Homo sapiens: one gene and its partners. The protein of the gene in region 3 purifies or fractionates together with the protein of the main gene of each other region. This does not show direct contact. Each region holds a gene or a part of one and is shown on either strand. Other genes may lie near its edges. The genes, in order: MEIS1, ZNF276, PBX4 and MEIS3.

The links.
Region 1: the proteins of PBX4 (region 3) and MEIS1 purify together in Homo sapiens (affinity purification with mass spectrometry; one large-scale study listed by BioGRID and IntAct). This does not show direct contact.
Region 2: the proteins of PBX4 (region 3) and ZNF276 purify together in Homo sapiens (affinity purification with mass spectrometry; one large-scale study listed by BioGRID and IntAct). This does not show direct contact.
Region 4: the proteins of PBX4 (region 3) and MEIS3 purify together in Homo sapiens (affinity purification with mass spectrometry; one large-scale study listed by BioGRID and IntAct). This does not show direct contact.

What each region holds. Positions count from the first base shown.
Region 1 is NC_000002.12:66,564,064-66,567,632, reverse strand, and holds part of MEIS1 (homeobox protein Meis1), read right to left. Parts: intron 181-3,569; coding exon 122-180; intron 1-121. UniProt on the Homo sapiens protein: Acts as a transcriptional regulator of PAX6. Acts as a transcriptional activator of PF4 in complex with PBX1 or PBX2. Required for hematopoiesis, megakaryocyte lineage development and vascular patterning.
Region 2 is NC_000016.10:89,738,468-89,741,425, reverse strand, and holds the end of ZNF276 (zinc finger protein 276), read right to left. Parts: 3' UTR 2,826-2,958; coding exon of another isoform or gene 2,718-2,825; 3' UTR 2,545-2,717; coding exon of another isoform or gene 2,452-2,544; 3' UTR 2,298-2,451; coding exon of another isoform or gene 2,137-2,297; 3' UTR 1,949-2,136; coding exon of another isoform or gene 1,873-1,948; 3' UTR 1,433-1,872; coding exon of another isoform or gene 1,327-1,432; 3' UTR 623-1,326; coding exon of another isoform or gene 560-622; 3' UTR 501-559; downstream 1-500. Other genes in the region: FANCA (Fanconi anemia group A protein), read left to right, coding at 560-622, 1,327-1,432, 1,873-1,948, 2,137-2,293, 2,452-2,544, 2,718-2,825. UniProt on the Homo sapiens protein: May be involved in transcriptional regulation.
Region 3 is NC_000019.10:19,612,120-19,615,688, forward strand, and holds part of PBX4 (pre-B-cell leukemia transcription factor 4), read right to left. Parts: intron 1-3,569.
Region 4 is NC_000019.10:47,409,479-47,413,047, forward strand, and holds part of MEIS3 (homeobox protein Meis3), read right to left. Parts: intron 70-3,569; coding exon 1-69. UniProt on the Homo sapiens protein: Transcriptional regulator which directly modulates PDPK1 expression, thus promoting survival of pancreatic beta-cells. Also regulates expression of NDFIP1, BNIP3, and CCNG1.

The DNA of each region.
Region 1 (3,569 bases), on a different chromosome or scaffold from region 3:
AATTGCCAGGCGTTCCTATACTCACTCCCAGTTTATTTACCAGGTAGCGGACCTCCCGGTGAATGGCTTGAGGATGGTTTTCGCTTGCGTGACTTGAATACAGTCACTATGGGGGACTTGCCTGCTCGGTTGGACTGGTCTATCATGGGCTGCACTATTCTTCTCCGGGCATTAATAAACCTGTAACCAAGAAAGTGAAACAAATCGTTATTCCTTAAAAATAAAAGGGGGGGTTGAGGAAGAGGAAAAGATGAATCGCAGTTGGAGTAAAACTAGATCTTGGCAAAATGGGACTCCTTCAGTTCTCTCCATTGCTCTATGTGCAGCCTCACGTGCTGGAAAACCTGTAACCCCCAGTGACCTTTGAGTACACAGGCTTGGGGTTTCTGAGTTGATTTATGTTTGCCTGTTTTACCACAGTTGGACACTTCCATTTCATCTTTTCATGGGGGAATTAGCAGAGTTTTCAGGAAACAATACTAGCCACCACTCCTTTCATTTGCAAAGAGAGAAAATTGGTGTAAAGAGTTAGATGCTCATAAGGGCATCTGTTACCTCTCCTAATTAGTGACATTTCAATCTTATGTTCTCTGACTTCTTTTGTACAATTTTTATCAAAACCACCCCTACCTCTTGCAAACCTAATTCTATTTTAATGCCCACTATTAAGATAATGAACTGGGATGGCAGCACACCATCAAATGAGAGAATGTCTGGAGTTTATCACCACTAACTCACACTGCTTAGGACTTCAGAGAAATGCATTCCTTGTAGAGATTTCTTGGGGTGGCTTTTTTTGTTGTTGTTGTTTTTTTTTTTTTTGCTCTTTATGTAAAGTCTGAGGTCAAGGCAAGGTCACAGATATACAGTAATTGAACTTATAGTTTTGCTTTCTCCAGCTAGTACTGAAAATTTATAAACATCTTATTAAGGCACTTAAGTTACTTTAAGTGCCTTAATAAGATAGTTTTGTACAATTATTTTTGTAGCCTCTCCAAAAGTGACAAGTCACTGACATGTAAAAAAGTATTAATATACGCTCTCCAGAGTCATACGCATGAGATTCTCTTAAGATCCGTTTGTTCTGCATAATATTAAAAATTACGTATCAAATCCAGAAAATGAAGAGGACATATTAGATTCTGAAATAGTAAATTCCTTTTAGTTCCCAACTCAGATCAAATCTGAGCAGGACATAAAAAATACAATGAAAAGTTTAATAAGGCTCTATTAATGATTAAAGGATCCATAGTCCAGTATGAATTCTAGTTTGTAAATCTGCCCACTTCAGGAAGGAAAATAGTTCCTAAAAACCAAACCATTAAACAGACAGGGACAGGTTTTCAAAACAAAAATGCATACTTCATAACATTTTAAGATTCTCAATATCCTGTATCCTTGTGTTCTTTCATTATCTGAGAAGTAATTGAAACAAATAATGAAACTAGAATCTAACTAAAAGGTATACTGTTTGTGCTAATTCTTGTTGGCAATACATATTATATCAGTTCTTGTATATGAAGTCCCTGAACTGCTAATAAAAATATTTAAAACACAGGTCTACAACAAATTGTGTTGCAAATCAGGTTATCATTATCTTGTATAAACCATGAAAACTGGAATCATGTGAGCAGAAGGTTAGATTAATTCTCCATTCTCATTATAAGCACAGGTGTAGCACAAACACCATGTGAAATAACCAATTAAAATGAAAAAAAATCTGTTTTTTCATTAGCTGCCTTCACTGCATGACCAATTAGAAAATTATTTAATATTAATATTCTGCATATACCAAAAGTAATTTTCATAGTAACTAATGTAGGTAAGAGAGCAAAAACATCTCTTTATCTATGGTACTGTTCATTATCTGCAGACTCTTAGAGGGAAGGAATTCTGTCTATTAACTTTCTTTTTCCAGACTTTTTAAAAACATAATCTTTTATGGATGTGACTTATACTACTTACCTAAAAATAGGAAGAGACATTTTTAACAGATGAGAAGCCTGGGCTCAGAGAAATTAGGTGACTTCTTTGAGGTCACATGTTACCAAAGAGATGTTAATAATTTGCTAAATGACACACAGCTGTCAGTGGTAGCAAGCACCCTCCTCCCTGGTGCTCTGGCACAGTGACTAGAGCACCGCAACTATAGTGCCACTCATCTAGAATATCCAGACTAAATAGATATATAAAAATTAGCTGGTTTCAAGCCAATTACCACTGGCAGCAACCCCAGTGTTTAGTCAAGGAAGAAGCATGACTGTGAACATTTTGTAAATTGAAAATTTTGATGGCTGCACTGTTTGTGTGTATAGGCAAAGATAAGGCTATTCAAAGAGAGAGAGAGAGAGTGAATACAGTGACTTGATTTATCTGTATTCCAAAACTTGTCTCCATCATATTCACATATTGAGACTCCCATAAACTAATTCATAATAATCAACTCAGGTTTGAGTCTATGACTATTAAAGTCGTGAGTTCATTTTTAAAAATTACACCTCAGGTTTCAAAAGGGCTGTAATGGTCACTTCGTTTGGTCACTGACATGAATCCCCTATATGATATCTGTCCCCCAAAAGTACATAGGTAACCTCTGCTGAACTAATACAGCACTCACCACCTTACTTAAGAGGCCACCCCATCTATAAACAAGGCTGTTAGAAGGTTCTGCCTTACTAGATCAAAAATATTTATGTTGGTGCAAAAGTAATTGCGGTCTTGCCATTACTTTCAGTGGCAAAAACAACAATTACAGGGGGAGGGGGAAGGGATAGCATTAGGAGATATACCTAATGTAAATGACGAGTTAATGGGGGCAGCACACCAACATGGCACATGTATACATATGTAACAAACCTGCACGTTGTGCACATGTACCCTAGAACTTAAAGTATAATTAAAAAAAAAAAAAACAATTACTTTTGCACCCAACCTAATAGTTTTATCAGCACAACTCCTTGGGGTACTGTAAGCAATTCTAATTTTACTTCCACAGGATAGCCCTTCAAATAGTTAAACATAGCCATTATGCTTTATAGCCTTCTCCCCTCTAATCCTTAGGTTAAACATTAGTGATTCTTAAAAAGTGCCTGCTAGAATGTGAGTCCTTCTAGGATATTGAGTCCATTCAATACCTGGACCACTCTCTGCTCAGTAGGCTGATCTTTGTCTATGTCCTCCTGAAGCCTTGCAGTGGACAACACCAACGACATTTATTCCAGGCCTGCTCTGATCCCCAGGTAGAAAGCAAATACACACAAAAAATACCACAGCCTCTTAGCCAACTGCCCACAGGTACTAGATGTTATTTGCTTCTTTTTGGTGGCAAGAACTGTTTGTTGTTATTAAGAACACAGATGTCAGCTACCCCTAGAATGTGTAGATATCAAAGGGGGAAACCTTTAATTAAAAAATAAAACATAAACAAAAACACTGAAAACCTGAGAAAAACTAATCACCTTTTCTGAGCTGTTTGACCACATTAGTAGGTCTACCTGCAACTTCTTACTTGTGAAACATTTAATTTAAAAAATTCAATATAATGAAATATCATTAGTACATATAGGATG
Region 2 (2,958 bases), on a different chromosome or scaffold from region 3:
AGCTGGATCGACAGCAGCGCCCAGGGTTTTGGTGATTATAACCACCCTGCAGGGGTTCTTCTGAGTACGTCTTCAGGTTTCTTGTGTAGTTTTGTTAGAAGGGATTTTAGTGGCTCCAGGGCCTTAGGACCCTAGTGTGCAGCGAGGAGTGTCCACAGAGACCCTGCCCAGTCAGGCCCTACTTTAGGCTGGAGCCTGTGGGCTTATCTTCAAGGATTTTACAAACACTTCTGACAGGAGGCCTTGCAGGGAGATGATGCTGAGTTGGGACTGCGCACAGCCAAGGAGACCGCAGCAGTCTTCTCTTTCTGGCTCTTGTCACTTTTTCAAACTGTTTCTAGCTTTGTTTAAAGGCAAGTGTGAAATGACCCAGCCAGTAGTAATTAATTCTCAATTAAGCTGTCTCTCTAGAAGTGATTGGAAAGTTTTCTAAGATCCACTTAAAGGATTTATGGCCTAGATGTAAAAAATTTCAATTAAAGAGGAATGTGTCAGCCTTATTTAGAATGACAGCACAGGTAATTTTAATGTAATAATAAGTGCACGTTTTTATTTACAGCTATTGGTTTTCCTTTTCTTCTTCTCCTTGATGGGCCTGCTGTCGTCACATCTGACCTCAAATGTAAGTCAGACCTTACCAGCCAAGGTGTCCTCTCCCACTGTGGGCCAGGCAGGGGCACCAGGCAGCCAGCTTCCAAGTCAGGGTTTCCAGACTAGCTCAGGAGCTCCTTGTGTTTGCGGAAGTGTGAGTGAGAACTCCCAGGCCGTGGGTTTTTTTTTTTTTTTTTTGAGATGGGGGTCTCACTCTGTCACCCAGGCTGGAGTGCAGTGGTGTGATCTCAGCTCACTGCAACCTCAGCCTCCTGGGTTCAAGCAATTCTCCTGCATCAGCCTCCCGAGTAGCTGGGATTACAGGCGTGAGTCTGTCACACCCGGCTAATTTTTGTATTTTTAGTAGAGACGGGGTTTCACCATATTGCCAGGCTGGTCTTGAACTGGCCTCAGTGATCCGCCGACCTCGGCCTCCCAAAGTGTTGGGATTACAGGCATGAGCCACTGCATCCGGCCTGTGGGCCTTTCTTTTAATGTCTTATTTGAGGACGTGGTGCAGCAGCCTTGGTGTGGGTGCTCGAAGTCCCTGGCCTCCTACCTGAGCCTCTTCTGTCCAGAGGCCCAGTATTACCTTCTATAGGTAAAACTGTCACCAGTTTTAAGACTTACAATAAGCAAAGAGGAAATGCCCTCTTCTGTGCTGAGGGCTGTACCCTCCTACCCATGGGAGCACCAGGTCGGCCATTCTCAGGGTTGGTCTCCTGCGGTTTACAGAGCACCACAGACCTGCCAAAGGCTTTCCACGTTTGTGCAGCAATCCTCGAGTGTTTAGAGAAGAGGAAGATATCCTGGCTGGCACTCTTTCAGTTGACAGAGAGTGGTAAGAAACACGCTGCTGAGGCACAAATGCGGAGGGCCGCTCTTTTCAGAGGCATCTTGCAAATGGTTAAGAACGAGCCCTCCTTGAGGTTCCTTGCTAAGTAAGTTTATAAGCTCCATTTTAGTTGGGACAGATTAAGCACAAACTTGTTTAAAGCAATAAGATAATTTACTGGCTCACTGGTCAACCCCAGGACCAATGGGCCTATCATGGGGACTGCCTCTCTCTGCACCACACCCACCCTCCTGCAAGAGGTCGACCCCCCCATCCTCTCCCAGCTGCTGACAGGTACCTGGGTATCCTCAGCTCAGGCTGTTCGCCCCACACTATCCCCACAGCCAGGCCTCCCAGGGTACACGTCCCGACCCCCAGGGGTGTCCCCAGCACTGATAATAGGCAGAGATGTCCAGAGTTGCCTGAGCCACTTCTTGGTGTTGCAGACCTCAGGCTGGGGCGGCTCCTCCTCCGTGTGGCCCCGGATCAGCACACCAGGCTGCTGCCTTTCGCTTTTTACAGGTACCTCCACCCACAGGGCTGGTCAGGGCTGGGCAGTGTTTCCCAGACCCCCATCTCAGCACCTCTGGGTCCCGCCAGATGGGAAGGGTTGTCTGTGCCTCTGCTCCACAGATGAGCAGTATCCCTTGGCATCACCTGCTACCTTTCCAGCAGTCTGTAGCCATTTGTCACTATGTCTTTACCTCTAGTCTTCTCTCCTACTTCCATGAAGACGCGGCCATCAGGGAAGAGGCCTTCCTGCATGTTGCTGTGGACATGTACTTGAAGCTGGTCCAGCTCTTCGTGGCTGGGGATACAAGCACAGTTTCACCTCCAGCTGGCAGGAGCCTGGAGCTCAAGGGTCAGGCAGGTGCAAGGGCCAGTCCCACCTCCAGGGGAGCTCCCCCCAGCCGGAGGCTCCTTCTGCCAAAGAATGTTCCGGCACAGCATGCAGACTATGGGGGACACACCAGCCCTGTTTCTGTATGTCTTCTAACCTGTGAGTTTGCCTGTTTTCTCTCTAGGGCAACCCCGTGGAACTGATAACAAAAGCTCGTCTTTTTCTGCTGCAGTTAATACCTCGGTGCCCGAAAAAGAGCTTCTCACACGTGGCAGAGGTAACGTCAAGATGCCCACCTTGGGCCATGTGGGGGACATGAGAATTGACAGCTGCCTGGGCCATGTGCCTGCCTGGCTGGCAATACAACTCGACTATTTCTGCCAGAGCCCCTCCCCTGTGGTCTGAGGCCTAGTGGGCGGCATGGGCTGAGGACCTGCTCCTCTCTCACAGCTGCTGGCTGATCGTGGGGACTGCGACCCAGAGGTGAGCGCCGCCCTCCAGAGCAGACAGCAGGCTGCCCCTGACGCTGACCTGTCCCAGGAGCCTCATCTCTTCTGACGGGACCTGCCACTGCACACCAGCCCAGCTCCCGTGTAAATAATTTATTACAAGCATAACATGGAGCTCTTGTTGCACTAAAAAGTGGATTACAAATCTCCTCGACTGCTTTAGTGGGGAAAGGAATCAATTA
Region 3 (3,569 bases):
TTAAGCCGGGCATGGTGGTGCATACCTGTACACACCTGTAATCCCAACTACTCGGGAGGCTGAGGCAGAATTGCTTGAACCCATGAGACGAGGGTTGCAGTGAACTGAGATCGCACCACTGTATCCCAGCGAGGGCAACAGAGTGAGACTCTGTCTCAAGAAAAAAACAAAACAAAACAAAAAACCCAGGTTTGAAGAGAGAGCTATATTTTCCTTCTGAAAACAAACTTACGGCAACAAAACATGTTCAGAGGGCCTCACGACTGAGATGAAAAATTCCTTCTTGCTAAACAGTTGAGTTCAACTGACTGCTGGGGTGATAAAAGGGGTGACTGGCACATTGAGAGTGGGCAGGATCAGAAAGATTTTCAAAAGCCTCACAGGATCAGTTGATCAGAAGAGACAATCTGCTTCCCAGCCCAGGTTGGTAATCTACCAGGCTGCAGGGTTTACTGTGAGGAGCTGTATTTCCTCCAGAGGGGTGGAAATAGCCCATTTGAGGATGGATGATTTTTGTCTGGACTTGAGTGAACTTTAGGGCTTTGAGTTCATCTAAAGGCTAGGTCCAAAGAAATGAGGGAGATTTGAAGCTTCAAAGTCTCGAAATAAAAGCCCCGGGGGTCATCCCAATTCAGAAAGAGGCCAGAAACCAGGAACCAGCTACCTAACACCTGTGTTATCAAGCATGAATAACGCCCCCCACCACACCATTTAATTTCTTTTTTTTTTTTCTCTGTCATCCAGGCTGGAGTGCAGTGGCACGATCTCGGCTCACTGCAACCTCCGTCTCCAGGGTTCAATCGGTTCTCCTGCCTCAGCCTCCTCAGTAGCTGACACATACTACAGGTGGGCATCATCATGCCCAGCTAATTTTTGTATTTTTAGTAGAGGTGGGGTTTCTCCACGTTGCACAGGCTGGTCTCGAAGTCCTGAGCTCAGGTGATCCTCCTGCCTCGGCCTCCCAAAGTGCTGGGATTACAGGCGTGAGCCACTGCACCCAGCCTAATTTCTTAGCCTTAAAACAAAAAGAGCTATCTTTGAAAATGGTAAAGAAGTAACTGGCTGGCAGGGCGTGGTGGTTTATGCCTGTAATCCCAGCACTTTGGGAGGCCGAGGTGGGAGGATCACCTGAGGTCAGGAGTTTGAGAGCAGCCTGGCCAACATGGCAAAACCCCGTCTCTACTAAAAAAATACCAAAATTAGCCGGGCGTGGTGGCAGGCGCCTGTAATCTTAGCTACTCGGGAGGCTGAGGCAGGAGAATCTCTTGAACCCAGGAGGCAGAAGTTGCAGTGAGCCAAGAACACGCCAGAGCGAGACTCTGTCTCAAAAAAAAAAAAAAAAAAAAAAAAAAAAGTAACTGGCTGCATTCCATTCTAAATCTAAAGCCTGTCTAGGGAAACTAGAATCTCAGGAGATTGCTGCAAGGAAAATGCAGCAGCCCTGGGGCTGTGCTGGGCCTGAGGAAGGCCACATCTGAGCAGAGCTCACCCCTTAAGCAGCAATATCCCGGTCTGGAAAGTACAAAAGTAGCTTCCAGGACACACCCAAAGCTCTGCCTCTGCGGTGACATTCCTGGGTGTGTCAAAACCATCTTCCCCCTTTCCCAACTCCTACTAATCCCTCTAGAATCTCCTCAGTGTCATGAAACTACTGAATGCAAGGTGCTAGGCATTGATCCTGGCTCTGGGAACACAAAGTATAATAAAGCCACTGCTCTCCGACTAGCCTAACAGACATCACGGAAGGCACCCTCTCCTGGCACAGCTCTTCTGTGCTAGGAATTACCTCTACACAGCACATTCCTGTTATAACAATTATTTACAAGTTGGTCTCCCACACACCCTACTTCTCAGTGGGCTCCAAGAAGGCAGAGAACATCTTAGCCATCTTGGTTTCTCTAGCACCTGGTACAATGCTCCAAAAAGAATAAAAACACTGGTTCACGTCTGTCATCCCAGCACTCTGGGAGGCCAAGATGGGTGAATCACTTGAGCTCAGGAGTTCAAGACCAGCCTGGACAACATGGTGAAACCCCATCTCCACAAAAAATACAAAAATTAGCCAGCCATTCATTGGTGGTTTGAGGCTGTAGTCCCAGCTACTTGGGAGACTGAGGCTGGAGAATCACTTGAACCTGGGAAGCAGAGGTTGTAGTGAGTTGAGATCATACCACAGCACTCCAGCCTGGGTGACAGAATAAGACCCTGTCTCAAAAACAAACAAACAAACATGGCCCGGCGCAGTGGCTCACGCCTGTAATCCCAACACTTTGAGAGGCCAAGGCGGGTAGATCATCTGAGGTCGGGAGTTTGAGACCAGCCTGGCCAACATGGTGAAACCCCATCTCTATTAAAAATACAAAAAACTAGCCAGGTGTGGTGGTGCACACCTGTAATCCCAGCTACTTGGGAAACTGAGATGGGAGAATCACTTGAACCCGGGAGGCGGAGGTTGCTCACTAGCCGAGATCGCGCCACTGCACTCCAGCCTGATCGCGCCACTGCACTCCAGCCTGGACAACAGAGTATGAGACTCCGTCTCAAAAAAACCCAAACCAAACCAAAAAACAGCCAAACAAACAAACAAAAACAAACAAACAAACAAAAAACCACAATGAAAACAGTTGGAGGAGCCAGGCTCAGTGGCTCATGTTTGAAATCCTCGACCTTTGGAAGGCTGAGGCGGGAGGATTTCTTAACTCAGGAGTTTGAGACCAGCCTGGCCAACATAGGGAGACCTAAAAAAATAGAAAGATTAGTCCAGGTGTGGTGGCTCAGGGCTGTAATCCCAGCACTTTGGGAGGCCGAGGTGGGTGGATCATTTGAGGTCAGGAGTTCAACACCAGCCTAGCCAATACGGTGAAACCCTGTCTCTACTAAAAATACAAAAAAAAATTAGCCAGGCGGTAGTGGCACACGCCTGTAATCCCAGCTACTCAGGAGGCTGAGGCAGGAGAATTGCTTGAGCCTGGGAGGCAGAGGTTGCAGTGAGCTGAGACTGCACCACTGCACTCCAGTCTGGGTGACAGAGTGAGACCCTGTCTCCAAAAAAAAAAAAAAAAAAAAAAAAAAGAAAGATTAGCCAGGCGTGGTGGCACAGGCCTGTGGTCCTAGCTACTCAAGAAGCTGAGGTGTGAAGATTGCTTGGGCCCAGAAGGTTGAGGCTGCAGTGAGTCATGATGACACTACTGCACTCTAGCCTGGGTGACAGAGCGCGGCCTTATATAAAAAAAAAAAAGCCAAAGAAATAGTTGTATGGTGACAAGGACTCTAATTTCTCAAACAGAGCATCTGAAACTACAAAAAGTGTCAACATTCCCTGAGAAGCAAAGGAAAGAAAGTTTGAAGAACAAATTTACTTTCTCTCCCCAAACCATGAACTTGAGAGCAGGAAGAACTTGAGAGCTATGCCAGAACCCAGTTCAGTACCCAGATATTGTAAAGGTCCGATAAATATCGGCCAAATTTGTTAAAAATTCATTGAAGAACAGGCCAGGCACAGTAGTTCACGCCTGTAATCCCAGCACTTTGGGAGGCTGAGGTAGGCAGATCACCTAAGGTCAGGAATT
Region 4 (3,569 bases), about 28 Mb from region 3:
ACTGGATGGACCTGGGGTCCCCAAATGTACAGACCCACTATCCTCATGGTCTCGAATCCACATATTATTCTAGAAAACAAGAGTTAGAAGTTAGTGCCAAGGCGGCCGGGCGCAGTGGCTCACGCCTGTAATCCCAGCACTTTGGGAGGCCAAGGCAGGCAGATCACAAGGTCAAGAGATCAAGACCATCATGGCTAACATGGTGAAACCCCGTCTCTACTAAAAATACAAAAAATTAGCCGGGTGTGGTGGCATGCACCTGTAGTCCTAGCTACTCAGGAGGCTGAGGCAGGAGAATCGCTTGAACCCGGGAGGCAGAGGTTGCAGTGAGCCGAGATTGCGCCACTGCACTCCAGCCTGGGTGACAGAGCAAGACTCCGTGTCAAAAAAAAAAAAAAAGTTAGTGCCAAGGCTTTGGGCATGGACTCTGGAGCTAGGACTCCTGGATGGGAAGCCAGTCCCTGCCTCCTTCCTAGCTGTGTGATCTTGGGCAGGTCACTTCCCCACTCTGAGCCTCCGTTTCCTTAACTGGAAAATGAAGGACAGGACCAGGCACGGTGGCTCACGCCTGTAATGCCAGCACTTTTGGAGGCTGAGGCAGGCAGATCACCTGAGGTCGGGCATTTGAGACCAGCCTGGCCAACATGGTGAAACCCCATCTCTACTAAAAATACAAAAACCAGGCTGGCTTGGGCACAGTGGCTCACACCTATAATCCCAGCACTTTGGGAGGCCGAGGCAGGCGGATCACCTGAGGTCAGGAGTTGAAGACCAGCCTGGCCGACATGGTGAAACTTTGTCTCTACCAAAAATACAAAAATTAGCTGGGCATGATGGTGGGTTCCTGTAATCCCAGCTACTCGGGAGGCTGAGGCGGGAGAATCGCTTGAACCCGGGAGGGGGAGGTTGCAGTGAGCCAAGATTGTGCCACTGCACTCCAGCCTGGCCGGGGTGACAAAGTGAGACTACGTCTCAAAAAAAAAAAAAAAAGAAAAAGGAAAAGAAGGGCCGGGCGCGATGGCTCATGCCTGTAATCCCATCACTGTGGGAGGCCCAGGCGGGTAGATCACAAGGTCAGGAGATCGAGACCATCCTGGCTAACATGGTGAAACCCCGTCTCTACTAAAAATACAAAAAATTAGCTGGGCGTGGTGGTGGGCGCCTGTAGTCCCAGCTACTCGGGAGGCTGAGGCAGGAGAATGGCATGAACCTGGGAGGCAGAACTTGCAGTGAGCCGAGATCACACCAATGCACTCCAGCCTGGGTGACAGAGTGAGACTCCGTCTCAAAAAAAAGAAAAGGAAAATGAAGGACAATAATAGTCCTGACAGTGTGTGGCCAGTATTCAATGATGAGTTTGTCTACACAGGGGCTCAAACAAGATGACCTTACACAGGTCTATGGCATCTTATCTAAAATCCTTGGGGCAAGAAGTGTCTCAGGATTCCGAACATTTCACATTTTTATCTTTATTTTTAGTCAGTGTCTCACTCTGTCGCCCAGGCTGGAGTGTAGTTGCATGATCTAGGCTCAATGCAGCCTCTGCCTCCCAGGTTCACGTGATTCTCATGCCTCAGTCTCCCGAGTAGCTGGGATTACAGGTGCCTGCCACCACACCTGGCTAATTTTTGTATTTTTAGTAGAGACGGCGTTTCACCACATTGGCCAGGCTGGTCTCGAACTCCTGGGCTCAAGTGATCCACCCACTTCTGCCTCCCAAAGTCTTGGATAACAGGCGTGAGCCACTGCGCCAGGCCCATTTCACATTTCTAGGCAATAAATCAGCGCATACACCATGCAGTTCGCAACCATCCTAGGCAGGGTCTGGGGCACAACCTCGTCATCAAACTCATGAACATTTCCATAGCAACATGGATGAGTATTTAACTAAGTGGAATAAATAAAGGCTATAAATAGCCCCTCATTAGTTCAGGTCAGCTTTTGCTGCCAAATGAGTTTGCACTAAATTTATGGGACAAAATCCAAAACTTTGAAGTTTCAGAGATTCTGGGGTCTCAGAATTGTAGCTAAGGGGGTCTGGGGCTGTATTATCTTTTTCTTTTCTTTTTTTTTTTTTTTTGAGACGGAGTCTCGCCCTGTCCCCCAGGCTGGAGTGCAATGGCATGATCTCAGCTCACTGAAACCTATACCTCCTGGGTTCAGGCGATTCTCCTGCCTCAGCCTCCCGAGTAGCTGGGATTACAGGTGTGTGCCACCATGCCCGGCTAATTTTTTGTATCTCTAGTAGAGATGGGGTTTCACCATGTTGGCCAGGTTGGTCTCAAACTCCTGACCTTGTGATCCACCCCCCTCAGACTCACAAATCGCTGGGATTACAGGTGTGAGCCACCGTGCCCGGCCTTATCTTTTTTTTTTCTTTGAAGAGACAGAGTCTTGCTCTGTCACCTAGGCTGGAGTGCAGTGGTGCAATCTTAGCTCTCTGCAGCTTCAAACTCCTGGGCTTAAGCAATCCTCCCGCCTCAGCCTCCCAAGTAGCTGGAACTACAGTTGCGCCTGGCTAATTTTTCTTATTTTTTGTCGAGATGGGATTTCACAGTTTGTCCAGACTGCTCTCGAACTCCTGGGCTCAAGCAATCCTCCTGCCTCGACTTCCCAAAGTGCTGGGATTACAGCCATGAAGCCACTGCAGCCAGCCTCACAGTTTCTTTATGCAAACTCCAACACACTTTGAGGAACTCAACAATCGGGTAGGATTTACCCTCTACCCAGATCTGTGCCCCAGGAGGTCAGCTCACCCATATGGACTGCAGTAACAGTTCTTTGTTTTTCAGTTTAACGTTGGGTTAAATCTGCCAAGTGGTTTTAGATTAACTGTATTCTTCTACCAAAAATCTTAGCCGCTGTCAAGCAATCTGCTCCTCTCTCCAGTTCTGGTGACCACGCCTCCTCCCACCCTTCTTTTTTTTGAGACAGAGTATCACTCTGTCGCCCAGGCTAGAGTGCAGTGGCGAGATCTCGGCTCACTGCAGCTTCCGCCTCCCGGGTTCAAGTGATTCTCCTGCCTCAGCCTCCCAAGTAGATGGGACTACAGGCGCACGACATAACACCCAGCTAATTTGTTGTTGTTTGTTTGTTTTTTTGAGACAGAGTCTTGCCCTGTCACCCAGGCTGAAGTGCAATAGCGCGATCTTGGCTCACTGCAACCTTCGCCTCCCGGGTTCAAGCAATTCTCCTGCCTCAGCCTCCTGAGTAGCTGGGATCAGAGGTGCGTGCCACCACGCCTGTCTAATTTTTTGTTTTTTTTATGTTTAGTAGAGACGGGGTTTCACCATGTTGGCCTGGCTGGTCTCAAACTCCTGACCTCGTGATCTGCCCACCTCAGCCTCCCAAAGTGCTGGGATTACAGTCGTGAGCCACTGCACCTGGCCTAAGTTTTGTATTTTTAGTAGAGCCGGGTTTTTGCCATGTTGGCCAGGCTGGTCTTGAACTCCTGACCTCAGATGATCTGCTCACCTCGGCCTCCCAAAGTACTGGGATTACAGGCATGAGCCACTGCGCCCAGCCATCACCAGTCTACATTTTCCTTTCTGTGACTGCAGTTTGAAGGT